Linked DNA regions of Homo sapiens: region 1 is linked to region 2. The links come from fine-mapping of genetic effects on gene expression. A gene starts in region 2. The other region holds a variant in brackets. All regions are shown on one strand. Distances are from middle to middle. Region 1 overlaps RCL1 (RNA terminal phosphate cyclase like 1). Region 2 holds the start of RCL1 (RNA terminal phosphate cyclase like 1).

The links. PIP is the estimated chance that this variant, and not a neighbour inherited with it, causes the effect.
Region 1: its variant is fine-mapped to the expression of RCL1 in Th1/17 cells (Schmiedel 2018, PIP 0.95).

The regions. Positions count from the first base shown.
Region 1 is chr9:4,834,975-4,843,094 of GRCh38, forward strand. RCL1 (RNA terminal phosphate cyclase like 1) reads left to right here. Exons shown (of 9, transcript NM_005772.5): 6 at 6,258-6,383. Among named protein-coding and RNA genes, the nearest start is that of MIR101-2, 11 kb to the right of the region's middle. RefSeq lists a silencer at 7,335-7,629. The variant T/C (reference allele first, on the strand shown) is at 4,537.
Region 2 is chr9:4,788,016-4,796,135 of GRCh38, forward strand. It overlaps RCL1 (RNA terminal phosphate cyclase like 1), which reads left to right and starts at 4,929. Exons shown (of 9, transcript NM_005772.5): 1 at 4,929-5,212. The coding sequence starts at 5,077. RefSeq lists enhancers at 4,186-4,235, 5,056-5,105, 5,180-5,679 and a silencer at 4,616-4,975.

The DNA of each region.
Region 1 (8,120 bases), 47 kb after region 2:
TGCCTATAGAAAGGAGCCTTGAAGAACAGAGGATTGCAAAGTAGAGCAAGAAAGGAGGAGGGCTTCAGGCAGAAAAGTGGGCCTGAGCAGAGGTGGCAGTGCACAGTGGTTCTAGGGAGTGGCAAGTAATGAAGTGTGGCCAGATTTCAGGTTGGTCTATGGCATTTGATGGTAGAATGGGGCATGAAGACAGGCAGGGGCCAGTGAAGAGCTGAAGGTGGCTGGAATCAGATACTATGCAGAACGCAAAGAAAGGAGGGTGGAACCCTGTGAGGCCACCAAAACTTGAAAGCAAGAGTTAAGTAAGGAGGGAAGTAAGAGTGGGGAAGAGAATAAACAAAACATAGCTTCCTGGAAGCTCAGGTCAGCACTTTAAAAGGCCCTGAGGAGTTAGCATTGGGGTGGGGGAAAAGCTGAGGGACTCAGCAGCAGGCTGTCACTGATGCCCTGGGGAAGAGTGCTGGATCCCTATCCCAAGGGACTAATTCTGGGTTGTGGAGTGAAGGGGAGGGAAACAGCGGCTTGTGGGGACCACTCTTTACAGAACCTTGACAGGAAAGAGAAGGAGAAGGAAGGATGAGGGAGTAACTTGATGAAGCGAGAGTCAGGGAGACTCCCTCCCTTTTACAAAAAGATTGGTAAGGATTTGAGTGTTTTTGTAGGTTGTTAATGTAGATGAAGCAAAGTAATGAGCTGATTAAAAGCCCAGGTGCTGGAGTCAGAAAGACGTGGGTGCCGACGCCGGCTGCGCCACTTACCAATGGAAGCATTTGGCCGTAAGCCTTGGTTGCCCGTATATCTTTAGTCCTGTTATAACTGCTGTGCGAGACTGTCATGAAGGTAAAATGAGATCGTAGTTGCACAGTAGGAGGCACTGGTGTGTAAGTAGCATTGGGTAAATGGTTACTACTATTCTTTTTATTCTTACTTGAGAGGGGATGGATTCAAGGCCACAGGCATACGGTAAGGGTGGCTCCAGGTAGAGCTGTGTGGAGGTGAGTGGAAGGGGGTTGGGATGAGTTTTCAGTTGTTACCGAGTTAGGATGGGATTGAGGGTAAGGGGATGGGCGGGGTAGGATAAGAGAGTGTGACAAGGATGGTAAAGATGTGCCTTCACAGGGGAGCATCATAACTGAAGATAAGAAAAAGGCTGTGTTCCAGCAGTAAGGTCCTTGCTGAAGGTGTAATGTTAACACAGTGCCAGCTGCATGGCCATGTGGCTATATCCAGTGGCAGTTGGCAGCCTAGAGGGAGGAGTAGAGAACGTGGGAGGACCAATTTCATCCAAGGTTGGATGCAGGTTGGCAAGGTGGGTGGGTCCTACAGGAGGACAGTTGGAGGGTGGGTGCTGGAGCATTGGGAAGTACATTCCTCACTGAGGATTGTCACAGGGGCTCACCAGCCTGGACAAAGCAGGTCAAGGGATGAGAAACTTTAACAGGCTTAAAGATCAGATCTAGTGGAAATAGATACATGTACTGTGTAGGACAAGAGATTGTGTTTAGGGAGTTTTGTTTTGGGATTTCAGATATTAAAAGTGGTAAAATTCTAGGTGCTGACAGGATCTGGGTGGGAGCAGGTGTTGGAGGCCGTAGAGCAAGACAGGCTGTGGGATGACTTTCCTGGCGGGAGTGTGACAAGGAGGGCAGACCAGAAAGCCTGCTTGTCAGGGCGGGGGTGGGTGCTTAAGGTCGGGTTTTGTGTTCTCAGGAGGTTTGGCAATGGTATTACTTGGAGGAAGAAAGGTGTAGCGTGGACTGTCTTTTCAGAGGCCTCGAATAGCTTGAACAGTAAGTGGTGAAGGGCAGGGAGTAGGGTGGGCTGCAGAGCCATGTGCAGAGAGAGTGCTGGTTAAGATAGAAGCTCAAACTTGGGTTGCTGCCTGAAGTTCTTTTTAAGGATCATCAAAACCACAGGAATACATAATAACAAAGCCTTCCTGGGTTATGGTCTGTTCTCTGCATGGCTGTCCCCCAGCCCATGTAAGCGCCCAGCCTTGTGTGTACCAGGAGAGAACAGGCAAAAGGAGAAATGGTTCCTTTCCTAGGAGCCCCCAGGTTGATGCATAGTTACATTGCCCAGGTGACTTTCTAAGGTGATATTCAACTCTAGTATCCAAATCCGAGGAGCTGGAATAAGGTTAATTAGGTTACAAAGAAATGGAAATGCAATGTAACTAGGTGTGTGTTTTTGAAACCAAATGTGCCTTTTCTACTTGAATTCATTCTTATTAACAGATGCATTGTATTCCACCATATATAGAACCCAAAATCAAATCCTGTTGATGGCCATTGAGTTGTTTTTTGCTTTTCACTGTTGCCAAATACACTGCGGTTAATGGCTTTAACCACAACATTTTTGGCAATGGTGAAAAAAAGTGTAATAAGTGTATAGGAATACACTTTCCAATACATTCCAATAAGTGTACAGGAATACACTTTCAGTACTATTTTGGGTTTGTCTGGGGGGTAGTTGTTTTTTTTCCTCCTTATTTGAGATGTGTTTCCTTAATGCTGTATTGGCGGCCGTGAACTTTGTTTGGAATCCAGTCTCTGTAGTCTGGAAATGTGATTTCTGGCAGTGTGCTCTGTTTTGACACAATCTTGTCATAACAACATGGGTTTCATCACAGTGGGGTCCCCCTTGTTCTCTCTGGGTGTGCAGATGGTCGTGTCCTTTGATGATGATGCTGGGAAATGGGGAAGGGCTTTCCAGGGGAGAACATAAAAGTTAAAAGAGCTGTAGTGCCGGGCACCTTGGGTGTAACTATGTTCCTCCCTGGCTTCTCCCTCTAATGTTCTTGGAACCTTCCCTGTGTAGAATCTGAGCCAGGAAGAGACTTGTGAGGTCCCAAGTTCCTCCCTCCCTGGAGGCAGGGGATAGGACATGGAAATCATCCCCAATATATCTCTGACTGGTTGAGGCTTCCTCCTGGCTCCCCAGGAGAGTTGACACAGTGCCCTTTCTCAGATCCCTGTCTGTTAACCAAACATTTCAGCCACTGCTCTGCAGAGCTGCCCATTTCACAAACACCTCAAAGGAATGTTGGTTTGAATGGAGATCGCCCTCTTCTCCAGTTTTGGAGCCTGGGAAAAAAGAGCTGCCTTTGGAAAAAGCTTGAGTTGGTTTTGTGGTTTTTTTCCTTGCAAGGCTGGTTGACTACTGGACTAAGCTTGGAGGTTGTATTTCCCATGGGAGGGCTCAGACTGGGAGAAAGAGGCCCACTCTCTTGTGTGCATTTGTGGTTTTAACTGAATTACTTCCAAAGTGCATCTTTTCCCTCTTGCGTTCTACAAGATGACCTACCAGCCAGGGCCCAGAGGGAGCTGGTGTTGGTTCCTGCCAGCAGCTGTGACTACACAGTAGTTACCTTTTACTTAATGCCACCCACTCTTTCTCACCCCTGCCTTATGTGGGGCGTAAGAGAAAGGAACATTCTGTTTTAGTTTTGCAGTGCTGTCCTAGGAGCTCATGATTTGGTACATGAGAATTAAGTGAAAAAGCTGGCAGTAAAGGGGGATAAGTTGGAATTCGTGGGATAATCTAGTTTCTTTTCCTTGACTGTAGGAAAGGTACTTTGAGAATCAAGCTCTCTCTCCACCTACTGTAACATACACACACACACCCCTCTTAGCTTTCTCTGACATGGAACATTGGGGAAGGGGAAGAGTGGGAGTCCCATATGGACTGTAGCTATGGACTTGTACATTGGTATTGGTTCTTAATATGGTTTTCATAAATGGGCTTTAGGAGGTTCATAAACCTGAAAAATTTTCTGCAAGATTGTGAGTATATATGTTTCTCAGGAGAGGGTCCATAGCTTTCATCAGATTCTCAGAGAGTTCTCTGATTCTTGAAAGAATAAGAACCTCTGCTTGGGATTTGAATCTTGGATAAGTAATAAAGAAAAGCAATAGCTGACATTTGTTGGGCTCCTACTACACACTAGGCATTAAGAGCTTTACATGCATTTTATTTCATTTGTGCCTCCAAACTCTGTGAGGAAAGTGTTATGATTATCCTTCTTTTACTGATTAGGAAATGACAGCACAGAGAAGTTACCACAATTAACCTGGAGTGATGCAGCTTGCTGGAGCTTGGACTTGAACGGAGATAATCTGATTCTAGAACTTGGGGGCTGTTAGCCATTCCTTAGTAGGACATCCATGCCAAGCCAGATGGTTCTAAGCAACTGGCTTTAAAGTTCCTTTGCCTTCTTCATTTCATTGCCTGAGTTCTAGTATAGGATTCTGTAGGCCCTGAATTCGTACTGTTTGTTAACCTTCGTGTTTTTGTATTGGGATGGGTGAGAGGAGGAAGATGCTTTTTGGGAGTCAGATCTGTTTAATTTTGAGCAAGTGTCTTAGTTTTTTTGTCTTAGTTGTCTTTAATGTAAGTCCTAGAACTCGGAGCCATGGCCCTCAACACAGGGTTACTGTGAGCATAAAGTAAGGTGATAATAGATGTGAAAGAACTTTGGGAGCCGTGAGCTCTGTGGGATTATGTGCTAGGATGGTGACATCTCTTGTGCTTTCC[T/C]GGGGACAGTGGGCAGCCTCAGACCTCAGAAGGACAGCACCTGCTTGGTCCAAAGGGTATGAGATTCAGGACTGTTTGTCTAAGCTGTCTGTGGTCAAAAGTACATTCTGGACTGAAGAGATGGTGATGTAACTGGGCTGTGTGTGTATTGAAAAATCCCTCTTTGCTCTTTCCTCATTTCAGGTTTGTCCTTTGAGTCAAGTTAAATATTTATTGAGCATTTCTGAGTACAAAAGTGGTGTATTGGAGAGTTGGGAGGGATTACAGAGGTAAAGCCCTTGCCCTTATAGAGTGTGTGGTCTCATTGAAGAGCAAGAACAAAATGTGCATATGTGAAGAGAGATGTATGGTAAGTTCAAGTGGAGCTAACACTTGGGTGCCGGCTGGAGGGTTTCAGGAGAGAGATTGGGACCTCGGGCTGGGAGAATGGGGCAAAGCAGCTCAGGTTGAGGAATTTGGTCAGTTTGGATGGGTGGAAGGAGTTGATGGTGCAGAGCTGAAGATGGACACAACTGAGCAGGCTGGGGGCTCTAACAACAAGATATGGGAGGACCAGGAGCCACCGAGAGACTGTCACCAGCATGAGGAAGATTGGTCTTTTAGTATGAAGTTCAGGATGGGTCAAAAAAGGGAGCTAGATACCAGATCAGGTCATGTATCGTCTCTGAGCACTTTGTTTCTGCAGTTCAGATGAAAATTAAATATGTTATTGTCAGCAGTTCTTGAACATTGGGCTGGATTGGGCAGATTATATACCTCGTTCTACCTGTTGGACTTGTCACGTGGGGTTTGTATCAGGGTAGTGGGAAGGTCACATGTTATTTCTCCATTTTTTTAGTTCCAAATATATAGCCATCTCTTGACCATACATTGCACATTGAAGTGCTCAATACATACTTACTTTTTCTTTGACATGTGTGGTTGGGGAATGCCAGCTTCTGTTATAAAGTCTAGTTTTAGGCAATAATTTCCATTTCCTCAAGCACCAATCTTTTCACTTGAGTTACTAATATCTTCCTCCTTTCTTTTCTGGGGTGCCCTATTGTAGGAGTGCTAATTATCAATATTTTAACCATAAGGTAGCAGGTGTGAGGAGGCTGTGTTATCCACAAGTGGAGTAATTAATTCTTAAATAGTAGAAAATAGGCCCTGTAAATGAGAAAAACCTTTTTATATATTTATAAATAGCAGCAACCATGTTCTTTCACTGAACTTTTTCTGCTTCTCCCATCAGCATACCAGGAGTCAGATTGGGATCGCCCAGGTCCTGTGTGGTGTCTGTTCTGGGCTTAGGTTCTTAAGAGAGAGACTCATTGGCTACAGCAGTGGGAATGGACAGAGAATAGAAAGTGTTCTTAGGTGTTGTGCTTCAGAGGGAGCCTGGATCATGACCCGCAGAGAGGCAGGTGTCTTTACACCTTCCAAAATTGACTTGAACCATTTCTAGGGGAAGCGTGTGGGTAGGAAGTCAGGGGGTGGGGTTGAGGACCTCCAGCTTTATACTTTCCACTGTCTCTATTGTTTGGGTGTTTTTGCCATGACCTTTTATAATAATGAAAAAAATTTAATTATGGTACTAATTCAGTAAATTCAGTTGGAAAACAATAGATTTGGAAGTCCCAGTTTGTTACTACAGTTCCACAAATACTTGCCAGCTTTATAACTGATTTTTCTCTGTCCTGGAATTCAAGCAGAATGACATCCTTAACTCCAGGCTGCAGGTACTCTGTACGTGTGTCACCTCAGATGGCGAACCGGATTGTGGATTCTGCAAGGAGCATCCTCAACAAGTTCATACCTGATATCTATATTTACACAGATCACATGAAAGGAGTCAACTCTGGGAAGTAAGTATCTGTGTTTTTGAAGTCTGTTTCTGCAGCTTTTTCACATGCCTGTTCTAGTTGAAGTTAAAACTGCCAGCTCTGAGGTTGCGCAGCCAGAGGAAGAACAATTTCAGAATTAATTTCTTTCTGCCTTATTGCCGTTGTCACCAACAGGCATTTCTTGAGTGCCTGTCACATGGAAAGCATCCCAGTGGCTAGAGCTGGAAGCTAAGGGTCTGGTTCCTAGCCTTGGGGAATTAAAACCTTTATCTATTAATACACAATGCTTTAGGCTTTAAATTCCATCTGCACTCTGTTCCAACAAAAAAATTAAAGTGGACAGGTTCTTCCACCCTGAGTAAATAACAGTATAGGGTTAAAATCTTTTGTTATCTAAGTGTAAGTCAGCATCTCTCTTCATCAGTGGAAACAACATATTTACATCCAGAGAAAGTTGTTATTGCAGACGTGAATTTGGTTTAGTGAAAGCCTTTGCTTTGCTAAAAAATAAAAATTTTAAAAATTAGAAAAAAATTCTAAGTAAGGAAAATAAGTTCTTAAAAAATGATGCTCTATGTAATGAAGATACCTGTTTTAGGCTTTGCTTGTGTATTTAGCAACTAGGAAGTTAGAGAAGCAATTAAAGCCACTTTCTTAAAATAGGAAAGTGTTAAACATACAGAAAAGATCAAAGAATAGTACAGTGAACACGGAGATATACTCCTGCTGCCTATAGTTAACGATAAATATTTTGCCAAATTTGCTTCACTTGTTTGTGGGTTTTGTTTGTTTTTGTTTTTTACTGAATCATTTCAGTGTGAATGGGCATCATTTCACTTCACATCTGAGGCTTTGCAGGTTGTGTCTCCTAAAAATAAGAATATTAGAGTCTGGGGTTAACTGTTGTAGGTTAAGAAGTCAACTTCTTCTTAAGTGATGCCACAGCTGATCCTTTTTCACAGCTGTTTCACCTGTGGTTTCTTTTAATTTCAGCAAAAAGAGGAAAAGAGAGTAAAGGAGGGGGGTGAGTGTTTTATACAACCTTTGACCTTTATAAGGCCCAATGGAAAGATGAAGGTAGTTTTAGAAATACAGTGGAGGCTCATAGTCCAAAGCAACAAAGCTGGTGGCGTCATAACGCTGGGGTTGGGAAAGGATTTGTGGGCAAAGCTGGACTTTCTGGCTTGGAAAAGTCAATGATGTTCCTAAACCTTTGGTTTATATTCTAGTAACAACAGTATTTTCCTCATTTATGCATTGAGGGTGATGATGCCTATGTTTTGGGGTTATTGTAAAGATCACACATATAAGCCATTAATACCTTGCTTGTCACATGGTAAGTCCTACAGAAATGGTAGCTCCTGATGCTGTTCTTTCCTTTACTCTCCCTTGTTGGCCACAGGTCTGGAATTATGTGTCAGCTATTTTCTGGAGAAAGGGGATTTCCGAGGGATGGGGGAGGACAGATAGCAGCAGAAGCTGTCTAAATGGCTTCATCTCGATAGTCCCTTCTCTGCTTTGCCTCTCGCTTTATCAGAAAGTGTCCTGGCATGAAGCAGAGCAGGCCTGACAGCCATCCTGCCACCAGCTTATAGTGTGGCTTTTTGTTATACCACTGACTCAGCTGACCCTAGAGTGTGGTCAAGTCCATACTTACTAATGGTGAGTAGAAGCCTTACACGTAGATAAAGACATGGACATGATGTAGACTGTGGGCCATCAACTCCAAGCCCCATTTTAAAAATTACATGTAAAACC
Region 2 (8,120 bases):
ATTCTCAATGAAACTGAATTCAACAACACATTAAAAAGATCATTCATCATGACCAAGTGTGATTCATCCCAGGGATGCAAGGGTGGTTCAACATATGCAAATTAAGTAATGTAATACATCATAGCAAGAGAATGAAGGACAAAAATGATCAAATGATCATTTCAATTGATGCTGAAAAAGCACTTGATAAAATCCAGTATCGCTTCCTCATAAAAGCCCTAACAATACTGAGTATAGAAAGACATCCCTCAATATAATAAAAGCCACATATGATATACCCACAGCTAATATCATACTGAATGGGGAAAAACTGAAAGCCTTTCATCTTTTTTTTTTTTTTTGAGACACAGTCTTGCTCTGTCACCTAGCCTGGAGTACAGTGGTGCGATCTCAGCTCGCTGCAACCTCTGCCTCCCAGATGCAAACAATTCTCATGTCTCAGCCTCACCAGTAGCTGGGATTACAGGTGCATGCTACCACACCCAAATGGAGTTTCACCGTGTTGGCCAAGCTGGTCTCAAACTCCTAGCCTTAGGTGATCTGCCCGCCTTAGCCTCCCAAAGTGCTAGGATTACAAGTGTGAGCCACCACACTGGCCACCTTTCTTCTTTGATCAGAACATGACAAGGATTCCCACTTTCACCACTCTTATTCAACATAGTACTGGAAGTTTGCAGCTACAGCAATTGGACAAGCGAAAGAAATAAAGGGGATTCAAATAGGAAATGAAGAAATTTAATTACCCTTGGGTGTGGGTGGCTCATGCCTGTAATCTCGGAACTTTGGGAGGCCGAGGCAGGCAGATTGCTTTGAGACAAGCATGGGCAACACAGTGAAATATCATCTCTACAAAAAAATTAAAAAATTAGCTGAGTGTGATGGAGCATGCCTGTACATGCCTGTAGTCCCAGCTACCAGGGAGGCTGAAGTGGGAGGATCACTTGGGCCTGGGGCGTTGAGGCTTCAGTGAGCCATGATCATGCCACTGCACTCCAGCCTGGGTGACCGAGTGAGATCCTGTCTCAAAAAAAAAAAAAAAAAAAAAGGCGGGGGGAAAGAAAAAAGAAAGAAAGAAAAGAAAGAAAAGGAAGGAAGGAAGGAAGGACGGGAGGGAGGGAGGGGAAAGAAAGAAGAAAAAATTTTCCTTGTTTTTAGATGATATAATTTTATATTTAGAAAAACCCAAAGTCCACCAAATAAATATTAGAACTAATAAACAAATTCAGTAAATTTGCAGGATACAAAATTAACACACAAAAATCAGTAGTATTTCTCTATGCCAACAATGAACAATCCAAAAAAGAAATCAAGAAAGTGATCCCATTTACAATAGCTAAAAAGAAAATAAAATACCTAGAAATGAACTTAAGAAGTGAAAGATCTCTACAATGATAACTATAAAATATTGATGTAAGATTTTGAAGAGGCCACAAAAAATAGTAAGGTATTTTATGTTGACAGGTTGGAAGAATCAACATTGGTAAAATATCCATACTACCCAAAGCAGTCTCTATTAAAATACCAATAATATTCTTCACAGATATAGAAAAAAAATCCTAAAATTTATATAAAACCACAAAAGACCCAGAATAGCCAAAGCTATCCTAAGAAAAAGAACAAAACTGGAGGAATCACATTACCTGATTTCAAATTATACTACAATTAGCTGGATGTGTTGGTGCATGCCTGTAATCTCAGCTACTCAGAAGGCTGAAACATGAGAATCGCTTGAACGTAGGAGGTGGAGGTTGCAGTGAGCTGAGATCATGCCACTGCACTCCAGCCTGGGTGACAGAGTGAGACTCTGTCTCAAAAAAAAAAAAAAAAAAAAAGAAAAATTAAAAAAAAATACTATAGTAACCAAAATGGCATGGTACTCGCATAAAAACAGACAAATGGACCAGTGGAACAGAATAGAGAACCCAAAAACAAATCTATAACCCTACAGTGAACTCATTTTCAATAAAGGTGCCAATAACATACACTGGGGAAAAAACAATCTCTTCAATAAATGGTGCTGGGAGACCTGGATATCCATATGCAGAAGAGTAAAACTAGACTGCTTTCTCTTGCCGTGTACAAAAACCAAATCAAAATGGATTAAAGACTTATATCTAAGACCTCAAACTATGAAATGGCTACAGAAAATATTGGGGAAAATCTCTAGGACATTGGTTAGGCAAAAATTTCTTGATTAATAACCCACAAGCATACGCAACCAAAGCAAAAATGGGATCATATCAAGTTAAAAAGCTTCTGCACAGCAAAGGAAACAATCAACAAACTGAAGAGACAACCCAAAGAGTGAGAAAACATATCTGCAAACTACTCATTTTGAGATATCATCTCATCCCAGTTAAGATGGCTTATATTCAAAAGACAGGCGATAACAAATACTGGTGAGGATGTGGAGAAAATGGAACCCTTGTACACTGTTGGTGGGAATGTAAATTCGTGCAACCACTATGGAGAACAGTTTGGAGGTGCCTCAAAAAACTAAAAATAGAGCTACCATATGATTCAGCAATCCCACTGCTGCGTGTATACCCAAAAGAAAGGAAATCAGCATATCAAAGAAATATCTGCACTCCCATGTTTGTTGCAGCACTCTTCACAATAGCTAAAATTTGAAAACAGTCAAAGTGTCCATCAACAGATGAATGGATAAAGAAAATGTGATACATATACACAATATAGTATTATTCAGCCATAAAAAAGAATGAAATCCTGTCATTTGCAACAACATGGATGAAACTGGAGATCATTATGTTAAGTGAAATAAGCCAGGCACAGAAAGAAAAACATCACATGTTCTCACCTATTTGTGGGATCAAACAATCAAAACAATTTAACTCATGGAAATAGAGAGTAGAAGGATGGTTACTAGAGACTGGAAAACATAGAGGGGGTGGGGATGTTGGGGGGCAGGTGGGGATAATAAATGTGTACAAAAATTAGAAAGAATAAGATCTACTATTTGATAGCACAACAAGGTGTCTGTAGTCAACAATAATTTAATTTTCATTTAAAAATAACTAAAACAGTATAATTGTTTTGTTTGTATAATAACACAAAGAATAAAATGCATGAGGGGATGAGTACCCTATCCTTCAGGATGTGATTATCACACATTGCATGCCTGTATCAAAACTTCTCCCGTACCTCATATATACATGTACCATCTACCTACAAAAATTAAAAATTAAAAAAATTATATGGAACCACAAAAGACCCAGAATAGCCAAACCTGTCCTAAGCAAAAAGAACAAAACTGGAGGAATCACATTACCTGACTTCAAATTATACTACAGAGCTAGAGTAAACAAAATGGCATGGTACTGGCATAAAAACAGACACATAGATCAGTAGAACAGAGCGGAGAACGCAGAGATAAATCCACACAGCTACGGTAAACTCATTTTCGACAAAGTTGCCAAGAACATACTCTGGGGAAAGGACAGTCTCTTCAATAAATGATGCTGAGAAAATTGGATATCCATATGCAAAAGAGTGAAACTAGATCTCTATCTCTTGCCATTTACAAAAATCAAAGAAAAATGGATTAAAGGCTGGGAGTGGTGGCTCACACTTGTGAGGCCAAGGTGGGCCAATCGCTTGAGGTTAGAAGTTTGAGACCAGCCTGGGTAACATGGCAAAAACCCATGTCTATACAAAATACAAAAATTAGCTGAGCATGGTGGTGCACACCTGTAGTTCCAGCTAATGGGGAGGCTGAGGTTGGAGGATTACTAGAACTCGGGAAGTTGAGGCTGCAGTGAGTCATGAGCATGCCACTCCACTCCACTTTATAACACACTGTTGTCTACATAAGGCTAGCTACATCCCTTAATCTTAAACTCCCACCGCTTTCAGACACTATCATACCCCGCCCCCCTTCCCCCCGCGAACCCCCGTGCATTCTGGGACTCATGGTTTGGTGAGTGTTGTCCAGGAATGGCTACAAACCCACATTACTATGATATCGGACTTCTACTTGTGTAGTCATTTGTTAGTTAACTGTACATTTTGGAAGGTTTTTGAGTAGAGAAGTGAAATAATCCAACGTTTGGGAAGATTTTCTTGTGCAGGATTGGAGGAGGACGGGAAAGAGGGAAAAAGCATTGCGCGCGTGTGTGTGTGTGAAGTTATTACAACTATCTATCTTGAAGCATGCGAGGTAGGAGGGCCTGAATTGCCATGAAACGCAATGACGATAAACGAAGGGACCCGTGAGAAAGGGGCAAAGAGGTGTCTCAATAAAATAAGCAACGGCCTGCTGTGGGAGGATTCGGGTCTCAGTATAGGCTGCCACTGTCAGCTTTGCAATATTCCTCGAGCCTTTATCCATGAGTAGGACAGGATGGCTCTACCTTGCAGGGTTACAGCATGGAGCTGCGGGACTGCGCCGGCAGTGCGCTGAGCGGCATCCCTGCGATAGGGTGAGTGCACCAACCCTTGTTGTCTCTCTTAGTAAGAAAGAGGAGGGGTAGATAATAGCATCTTCACCCCAGTAGTTGCCGTAAGTAGTAATGCTAAGAATCCGGCACGTCGTAGGCATCAATCTCAGTCCGCCATCTCCCCTTGCTACCACGCCAGGAGGTACACAGAGGAGACTGCCCCGACTGGCAACTCCCGCGCCGGGGTTCCCTGGCCATCCTCCCGCGTTCCCTCCAGCCGCGCGCTGTTGCCAGGGCCCGGGCACCGCCCAGCTCCACTACGGACCAATGGCAGCGCGGCTTGGGCACCGCCCAGCTTCAGCGGAAGCCAATGGAGGCGCGGCGCGGGCACCGCCCTGATCCGGCGCGGGCCAATAGCGGCGTGGCCCGAAGCGGGGGCCGCCCCGGTCGGGCGGGGAGGCGGGGAGGTGGCCACTGGCTCCGCCCCGCTCCCCTCTGACCCGGTGTCTAGTCTCTCCGTCTTCCTGTTCCAAACCACGTGGACGCGTCTGGGCTGCTGGAGGCAGCCCGAGCCGCCGCCGTCGGTGTCGCCGCCACCACCACCATCGGAGTCACGAGTCCCGCGTCTGTCCGAAGTCGCCGCTCTCGGGCTGCTCACGTCTCTTCGGAGAGCGCGCACATGGCGACTCAGGCGCACTCCCTCAGCTACGCAGGGTGCAACTTCTTGCGCCAACGTCTGGTCCTGTCTACCCTGAGCGGGCGCCCCGTCAAAATCCGAAAGATTCGGGCCAGAGACGACAACCCGGGCCTCCGAGGTAACTTGGTGTGGGCGGCGCGCGGCGTGGGCGCGGGGGCTGAGGGGAGACCGAGCTGATGCCGTGGGGGCCCGCGCGGTGTTGGTTGGGCGGCTCGGCGTCCGGCGAGCGCGTCGGGGAGGGCAGGTGGCGCGTCGCCTCCAAAGCCGGAGGGGCAGGCACAGTGGGGGAGGCGGGGTCGGGGCCCGAGGGGAGCGCTCAGCTGCAAGCTGCGCTCGGCGTCTCCGGGGCGCTGGTAGTAAACAGCTGCACGTTTTCCAGCTTTACGTGTAGCAACAAATCCCTGGCGTCGCCCCTTCGCGTCCCTTCGGCCCCTCTTGCCCTCGCCATAAACCTCTCAAAGGAGAAAAACAGTTTGTTGGACCGAAATATGGTGAATGAGCCGGGGGAGAGACATTGGGAGAGAAAAGTACCTTGGGTTGGTTCTCTGCCCTGTCTCAAAGCAGTTCTCAGAAGCAGCTGCCCCCTTGGACACCGGCTGTTCCTGTCGCCATGATTTCTCGGCTGCCCTCACACTTGTCCTTGGGTGTGGATAAAGAAATTTTTAAAATTCTGTGTTTGTTTTCAGCCGTGACTGTGATTGATGTGCGCAGGACAGGAGCTTTGAGATAGACTTTTAACAGTCATGGGCCTAATTGCCTTGACTTTAGAAAAGGGGTCGGTGACAATCGCTAAACTGCAGGCTTCCAAGCTCACTTCTTGCTCTGCAATGGTAGGTTAAAAAGAAATAGGCCCATTTAAACCCACATCTCATTAAATGGCGCCGGTTTTCAACTGGCCTTGGTTTACACCTGGCCCCCTGGCATGAGATACATGCATTTAAAAGCTTCTGACTGGTGGTTATCCCAAGTTGGGCGAGTCAGTAGTCAGGTGAAAAAGGAAAAAACCTGTCTGTAAATTGAAAAAGAGTGTTTGTGGTTGGTCCTGGAAGCTTCCTGAGCGGCGCTGATGTGTTTCATTTTGCACTGGCTCTTGTTTTATCTGTCTGAATGCATTTTTTGGATAGTTAGATCTCTGCCTCTCTTGGGTGGTGATTGGCTGCACATAAAGGGCAGAAGATGCCATGCTATTGACGGAGATAGGTTAGGAAGGAAAGAAGCAGAATATCCCAGGTACAGTGGTGAGAAACCTAGTGATGGTAGGAAAAACTTGTGTTGGTGGTTCCTGTCCTCTCTCTACTGCTCAAAAACACTGAGAAAGTTAGGGAGAGACCACAAATGGTTTATGCCACGACTTTTCCGTCAACAAGTGTTCCACTTAGTTTGACCCTTGGGCAAAGTGTTTGCTTGATTGCTGTGTGGCATTCTCAGCCAGCTCTCCATCCACTTTACCCTCAGGTTAGCTCAGAGAACTTGCCACTAGCTGGATATGGTAAGAAGATGGACTTCTACTTTGTATAAAAGTAGGCATAACTTTTTTTTTTTTTTCCAGAGAAATGGAAGTATAGCCTGGAAACCTGGGTTCTCTAAAATGAATCTAGTTCTATTTAGAGTTTTTCTATTGACAGGTGGCCTCCAATTTAATATTTAATGTTCCAAAGTATGCTTCTCCTTCTCCCCCTCCACTGTATGTGAGCATCTCTTCAAAGCATCTCACACATATGAGCTCCCGTTTCTTCCAAGAACAGGGCTTGGCCACTTGGCACTTTCTTGAAAGGGTGTCAGACGCTGATACCTGAGGGAGGTAGAACTGCTTGGCAGGTGTGCTGGTATTTTATGGGGAACATTACTGTAGAGCATTATTTGCCTTACCCCGTTCATATACCAGGGGAAGAAAGAGACTCCTAGTTATTTGTACATCCTTGCGCTGGCTTCAGGGCCTCAGAAACCTTGTAGATGTTTGTCTGCTTAATTTCTTTCTTTTTTTTTGAGACAGAGTCTTACTCTGTCTCCCAGGCTGGAGTGCCGTGGTGCGATCTCGGCTCACTGCAACCTCCGCCTCCTGGGTTCCTGCAATTCTCCTGCCTCAGCCTCCCTCGTAGCTGGGATTACAGGTGCCTGCCACCATGCCCAGCTAATTTTTAGTAGAGTATTTTTAGTAGAGATGGGGTTTCACCATGTTGGCCAGGCTGTATGAAACTGCTGACCTCAGGTGATCCGCCTGCCTTGGCCTCCCAGAGTGCTGGGATTACAGGTGTGAGCCGCTGCGCCCAGCCTGTCTGCTTAATTTCTTACAGAGGGAACAGAGAGATAGATATGCATTTGCAGATATACATGTATATGTGTATATGTATACACATACATGTAAGTGTATATACATATACGTGCACGCATAAATAGATGTAGTCCCTGACACATGATTTCTGGTCATAATCAAGGGAGTCCTTGGTAGCTTGATTGAAGATGTAGCCGGAAGCCTATGTTGCCCGTCATCTGTCCCTTTCTGACTTTTCCTAACTCAGATTCTCAGAGTTGGAAAAAACTCAGAGCATATCCAATAAAATCTTCAGTTCTAATGCAAGAATCACATCTCTTCAAGGTGCTTGCTTAAAACATCCCTCATGGTGTGGGCTTTGGAGGGTAGGGATAGTATGGGAGGCTTTCGGCCTCAGGAACATTTATTTAGAAAGTGTTTATTGAGCCACAGTATGTGCAAGGCTTTGTATGGGGGTGAGTGTAATATATGTGAGAAGCTGGTTGCCCCTGTTCTCATGGAGCTTGTCATGTAAGTAGGATGTTACTAAGTTTGAGTAACTTGAAGTAGGAAGGATTGAGTATTGTACAGGGGCTCAGTGGAGTTCAGAGCAGACACTTCCCTGAAAGTTACGAAGGAAGGCAGGTTTTCTGGACCTGATCTGGACAGATAGGATTGAGATGGTGGCTGCGGAAATCATTGTTTGCAAAATAAACAGTTCTTTTTTTAAAGAAATTTTATTTTAGAGTCGGGGGTACATGTGCATGTTTGTTAC